Linked DNA regions of Homo sapiens. The protein of the gene in region 1 purifies or fractionates together with the protein of each later gene. This does not show direct contact. Each region holds a gene or a part of one and is shown on either strand. Other genes may lie near its edges.

Region 1 (3,500 bases):
GTGGTCTAGCCCCACCAGGGTGGTGATGCATGGCTCTTTTTGTCTGCCACCTGCTTGGAGACCGATAGAGGCCTGATGACATAACTTGTTTGCTTCCTGGAAAGTGCCAGCCGTACTGTGATCTCCTGGGACCTAATATGGATACCTGGTGGGTCCCTAACCTACCCCCTGATGCCAGAGCACAAACTTGCAGGAGGCTGGAACTGTTCAATGAGGATTAACAATTCTGATGTAGAATCATGGGCTTCTGGAGTTGAAAGAGATGGATCTTGGGGTTCAACTTGTGCACTCGCCCCCATGCAGAGACTCCTTCCAGCCCCTCTAACACCCCTTTCTCCCTTTTTTGGAACCTCATTTATTTTAGGCCTTGTCATCTTTAGAGTTCTGCCCCCTAAGCCTATGATGATTTATTTCACTATTGTATCTGCGAGTACACAACTGTACATCCAAGATGTGCCTATGCGTACATCTTAAGTTCTGAAATAGTTTTGATTATCTAGATATGGGATTCATGTTTATATATGATTGATCGTTTTGCTCTTTATGGACCTTTATCTCTGAAGAGCTCATAGAACTTTATCCATTGTTTTATTTTAAACAAAGAATTTTAGAGAGAAAATAACTTGTCCATAAAATCTCCCCCTCAGGGAGAGGAAAAAGGGTATGGAGGCGAGAGGTGTGTGGGAATGATACTCCAAGTTGAATCCAGGAGAGAGAGGTACCTCCTAGTTAAAGGAGGATTCAGGCCCTCTCTACATCTACCCCTGGCCCCCTGCCCAGTTCCAAGCCCAGGTTTTTATTTTTGTTTTTGTTTTTTGCTTAGCTCACTAGGGAGAGATGGATGGTTTGGAGCAGAAGGGGGATAGCCCCATCGCATCCCCTGCAGCTGCAGCATGGGCCTCTTCAGCATCTTGGGGAGGAGGCTCCATGGTGACCATCCCTCCCGCCTGCCATTGTCCTCCCTGCCCTGCTCAGGGAGGGCCCGAGAGCAGGGCCTCCCCTCTTTCAAAGATGAAGCTCTGGGGGAGGAGTGGGATGGAGGGCACGCCATCCCTGGCCCGTTGCCGGGGTGACCGGGCCAGGGCATTGTGAGCAGCTCCTCTTACGGGATTAGGGCTGTTCCGCATTCTTGTCCGATGGAGAACACAGGCCGGCAGGGCCTGCTGCCCCTGCAAGCCAGAAACCATTGTCTGCCTCCAGAGCCCTGTGAAAGGGTGGATTAGAGGCTCCTCCCCTCGAGCAGGGGTTTCCTTTTTTCTCTCTCCCTTTGAATCTTGAGGGGACGCAAACCCTCCTGGGAAATTGAACGAGGAGCTGTTTACCACAGTCTAGGTCTTCAGATTTCTCACAACTTGCCTACCCCCATAAGAGGAAGTCTCGTATTTACCATTTGCGTCCTTGGGCAGCACTTGCCAGGAACTGGCCGGCCCTGTGACACCCCACCCCCACCCAGCTCCCACCTAGCCCTGCAGCCTCTGAGGGCCCCGTGGCATCTGTACGGCTAATTTCATAGACTCAGAGCAGGAAAGCCCCTCAGATCTCTTAGTTCAACCTGTTTGTTTCACAGAAAAAAAAAAAACCCGAGGCTCTGAGAAGGGGTGGGGACTGGCCCAGGGGGACAGTGACAGACTCCCTAGGCAGTGTCTCTCCCCAGCTCCGCGCCTCAGGCCCTGCTCCCTGGTATTTTCTGGGATTTTGTCCAGGAGCTGCTGCTGAGGAGGGTGGAGCAGAGAGGGACCGAGACCCTCGGTGGCTCAGAGCTTTGCTAGCTGCACCTCGGCAGCCCTCTTTCCATTTCTTCCTGCCTCTCTCCACCTTTCCTGAGCCCACCACACATACTGCCTGGAGGGCTTCGTCCTCATGTGGTGTTTTTCATCTTGCCGGGCTAAGATAGCAAGCCCTGAGATAGCAAGCAACTGTTGAGTTGTTTGTTGTCAGGGGAGGAAGGTTTCTCATCTGGACTGAATAGACTGGTGTTTGGGGGCTTTTTTTTTTTTTCTTCATAATTTTGGGACCAATTTTTAAAAACATGGTAAAACATACATAATATAAAAGTTACCATTTTAAGTGTACCAGTAGCGTTAAATTTAACGTTGTTGTAAACCAATCTCCAGAATTCTTTTCATCTTACAAAACCGAAACACTATGCACATTAAACAACACCTCCCCATTTCCCCTCCCCCAGTCCCTGGTAACCACCGTTCTGTTAATACTTTCTGTCCCTATGAATTTGCCTATTCCAGGTACCTCATTTAAGTGGGATCATACAATATTGATCCTTGCGTGACTGGCTTATTTCACTTAGCATAATGTTTTCAAGGATCATCCATGTTATAGCATGTGTCAGAATTTCATTCCTTTTTATGGTTGAATAATATTCTATTCCATCCTATGGACGTACCACATGTAATTTATTCCTACATTTCTTTTCTTTATTTTTTTATAGACAGGGTCTCACTCTGTTGCCCAGGCTGGAGTCCAGTGGTGCAATCATGGCTCACTGCAACTTCTGCCTACTGGGCTCAAGCAATCCTCCCACCTCAGCACGCGCCTATAGCTGGGACTACAGGCATGTGCCACCACACCTGGCTAGATTTTGAATTTTTTGTACAGACAGGGTTTCACCATGTTGCTCAGGCTGGTTGCGAACTCCTGGCCTCAAGGTGATCCTCCTGACTTGGCTTCCCAAAGTGCTTGGATTACAGGCTTGAGCTACCGCACCCAGACCTATCCCTACTTTTCTTGATGGACATTTGGGTTGTTTCCACTTTGTGGCTAGGGACTGATTGCTTATAGCAAGTTACAGAACTGGAGCAGAAAAAGTACCAAACTCAGAATCAGATGGCCAGTAGTCGAATCCACTTGCACCAGTTAGTGACCGTATGACTGAGCACATCATCTAACCTCTCTGGGTCCCAGTTTCTTCACCTGTAAAGGGTATTGATGATGCTTTTTGTGCCCACCTCCCAAGGTTGTTGTGAGGGTCAGTTCATTTACTAATGCAACAAGGAGTTATTCTGTGCCTACTGTGCTCAGCATCAAGAATTCAGTGGTGAGCAAAACTGGCTGGTCCTTGTCCTCATGGTGCAGATTGGCACGTTTGCTTTATAATTCATAACGCATCAGCCTTGCAAATGCAGGTTTTTACCTTCCTTGTCTATCTGTAGACTATGAATAAGGAGGTGACTTGTCGATATTCCTTCCTGCTGCATGGACCATGTGCACTCAGCTCAGGTGAGATCTTTTTCTAGAGAAAGTGCTCTCCAGCCTCTCTGCCACCTACACTGGTGAAGGATGGAGTGGCTTCTATGGGTGTACTCTGTGGCCTTTATAGCAGCTACAGGCAAACCACCAGGACCAGGGCCCCCAGAGTGTCCTCTGCCAAACCTTTCTCCTCACTCTCATGCCTTCTCTTCCCAGGTGGCCATCAAGTCAATCCGGAAGGACAAAATCAAAGATGAGCAAGATCTGATGCACATACGGAGGGAGATTGAGATCAT
Region 2 (3,500 bases), on another chromosome or scaffold:
AGTCACCTAATAGTAAGGTCCAAAATGAGAATTACTATCTCCAGAAGAGGGTGGAGGAGGCAGTGGTGGAGGGGGAGGGGGTGGGGGTAGGGAGTATGGTAAGTTAAGTAATGGATGAGCAGCCATGTTTGGTGTAGCCCAACCCATGTTTACAGGTGGGGGTGGTGGTGGGGGTGGAGGGCGGAGGGGAAAATTATGCATGTCAAACACTGGAAGAGGAAAGGGGTATTGTGGCATAATGGGATTATTTTGTCTCTGAGAAGGAAATCCTGAAGTCTCCTGAGATACCATATGTTCTGAGTTATAGAAATGCTGAGGTGGAGGCCTGCCATGGCAAGATCGAGGGTATCTGGCCCTGGAAAATCCTCGTGTGAATTCTCTGTTACGATATCCTTTTGCATGCTCTGAAGCAGAGCTATGAGCATTCCAATTCTGATGTACTTCAGTAAAATCTTCACCTTTGAGTGAGGGGAGGGAAAACATAAAAAGGAAAATAAGTTTAATATATCAAAAAGCATTGTTTGAAATTTCAATTATGATTTTTATTATCCAGTATATCTTGTGGCAGTTAAAAAAGTGTAAGACATAAAATGGTAAATTTGAAATGAACTGAAAAGACAAAACTTAATGCCAAAGAAAGAGAACCCAGCAAGTCAGAAAACACTTAGATGATAACCATTCTACTCTAGCCAAACACCACAGAAGAAAATGTGGCACCATCCCTACACACTCTCAAAGGCTGAGTACAGATCCTAGACTTCTATCCTTGACAGGCAGTAATGAGGTACTCCAACCCTTCCACCACAGTAGCATCAGGAACAGGCTGAACAGGGTGCCAGTAACAAGCCTCCCTGCAAACAATGAACATCACATGGGGAACCTGAACTTCCACCTCCACTGGCGGCAACCCAGTGTTCTTCCCTCTTTTACACTGGGGCAATGTCAGAGAAGATGGAGTAGAGTTAGGATTTTTGTCCCCAACCAGTGATAACAAGGCCATCCTCCACTGGTGTCAGTGCATACCATATGGGGAGGAGTGACAAAGTACTCCTGTCCCTACCAGGCATAAGACCTCGTGGGATGTCAGAACTTCTACCCTCATCCAGCAGTAACAAGGCACCCCTTGGCCAAAGGTGTCAACAGAGGCTAAGAGGAATACCTAGACTTCAATCTACCCTGTTCCTTTCGCTGCCAGAGTAGCATTTTTAAAAAGACAAAGAAACAATCACAACAAACCCAGCTAAATCAGAAGATTTACATAAGATCCATGGTCTTGTAATATAATACTCAATATACCCAGGTTGCAATAAAAGAAAATTGCTCATCACAAAAAGAACCAGGAAGACTTCAAATTCAATGAAAAAAATAAATCAAGCAAGGGTGTCACAAAGATGTTAGAATTATGAAAGGTATTAAAGCAGTCATAAAAATGCTTCAACAAGATATTATGAACATTCTAAAAAATTAAAATTACAAAGTTTTAGGAAAAAAAGAAGATATAAAATAAAGAACAAATTGCAATTTTAGAACTGAACATTACAATAACCAAAATTAAAAACTCAATGGAACAATATTGAAGGAGAAGAACAAAGCTGGAGGACGGAAACTACCCAACTTCAAGACGTATTATAAAGTTTAAGTAATCACAGCAGTGTGGTACTGGTGAAAGGACACACAAATAAATCAATGGGACAAAATAGAAGGTACAAAAATAGACCCACATAAACATACAAAAATAGACCCACATAAACATAATAAACGGATATTTAACGAAGGAGCAAAAGCAATACAACAGAGCATAAGTAGTGTTTTCAACAAATGGGGCTGGAACACCTGGACATCCACATGCAAAAAGAATAAATCTAGACAATAACCTTACACCGTTCACAAGAATTAATTCAAAATGGACCACAGACCTCAATGTAAAATGCAGAATTACAAAATTCCTAAAAGATAACATAGAAGAAAATTTAGACAACCTTGGGTTGATAATGACTCTTTTTTTAGAGACGGAGTCTCGCTCTGTAGCCCTGGCTGGAGTGCAGTGGCACGATCTCAGCTCACTGCAACCTCCGCTGCCCGGGTCCCAGCTGACGCAATTCTCCTGCCTCAGCCTCCCAAGTAGGAATGCGCCACCATGCCCAGCTAATTTTTGTATTTTTAGTAGAGATGGGGTTTCACCATGTTGACCAGGCTGGTCTTGAACTCCTGACTTCCTGATCTGCCTGCCTCGGCCTCCCAAAGTGCTGGGATTACAGGCATTGGGCCACTGCGCTCGGCCAATAATGACTTTTTAGATAATGACTTCTTAGATAGGACATCAAAGGCATGACCCATGAAAGAAATAATCAATATGCTGAATTTCATTAAACTTAACAATTTCTGCTCCACGAAAGATACTATCAGGAGAATGAAAGAAAAAAGCTCAGAAGTTCAAGGTTACAGTGAGCTATGATTGTACCACTGCATTCTAGCCTGGGCAACAGAGCAAGAATATCTCAAAAAACAGACAAAAACAAAAACAAAAACAAAAAAACCTCAGCAAGACATTTGTTGATGTAGAGAAGATTCTAAAATTTATACTGAAAGGTAAAGGACCTAGAATACCGATTATAATTTTGAAAAAGAGAAATAAAGTAGGAGTTATCACTCCACGCAATTTTAAGACTAACCTCACATTCTATACAAAATTTAACTCAAAATGAATCACAAGTGTACAATTTAAAACAGAAGACTACAAAACTTTTAGGGAAAAAATAGAAGAAAATCATTAGGATCTAAAGCTAAGCAGGAAGTTCTCAGATTCCATAAACAAAATTGATAAATTAGTTTTCCTCAAAACTAAAAACTTTAGTATTGCAAAAGGCCATCTTAAAAGAAGGAAAAGACTACAGACTAGAACAAATCATGAACGAACCAAATATTTGACAGAAAGCTAGTATCTAAAATATACATTTTTAAATTCTCGTAACTCGACAGTAAAAATCCAGCAATACAATTTAAAAGTTGGCAAAAGATAATGAACTGACATATCACTGAAGATACCGATAGTAAATGAACACATGGAAAGATGTTCAATGCCATTAGCCATTAGGAAAATGCAAATTAAAACCACAATTATATTAGCACTACAAACCTAGCAGAATGGCCAAAATTAAAAACAGTGATAACACCAAATGCTGGAGAAAATGCAAAGAAATTGTCACTCATACATCGCTGATAAAAATGTAAAATGGTATAGCCATGCTGAAGAACAGTATGGTAGTTTCTTAGGAAACTAAACATGTAATGCAACTATTATACAACCAAGCAATTATACTCTTGGGCATTTATTCCAGAAAAATGAAAACCTCTTTTCACAAAAAACCTGTATATAAATATTTATAGCTGCTTTATTCCTAATAACCCCAAAATGGAAACAACCTAGATGTCCTTCAATGGATGAATGGTTAGGTAATCTGGTAAATTCATGCCATGAAATGTTACTCTGTAATGAAGAG

Evidence for each region.
Region 2: the proteins of NUAK2 (region 1) and NAF1 purify together in Homo sapiens (affinity purification with mass spectrometry; 2 studies listed by BioGRID and IntAct, with this or other methods). This does not show direct contact.

Annotation. Positions count from the first base shown.
Region 1 is NC_000001.11:205,311,746-205,315,245, reverse strand, and holds part of NUAK2 (NUAK family SNF1-like kinase 2), read left to right. Parts: intron 1-3,420; coding exon 3,421-3,500. UniProt on the Homo sapiens protein: Stress-activated kinase involved in tolerance to glucose starvation. Induces cell-cell detachment by increasing F-actin conversion to G-actin. Expression is induced by CD95 or TNF-alpha, via NF-kappa-B.
Region 2 is NC_000004.12:163,128,891-163,132,390, forward strand, and holds part of NAF1 (H/ACA ribonucleoprotein complex non-core subunit NAF1), read right to left. Parts: intron 459-3,500; coding exon 7-458; 3' UTR 1-6. UniProt on the Homo sapiens protein: RNA-binding protein required for the maturation of box H/ACA snoRNPs complex and ribosome biogenesis.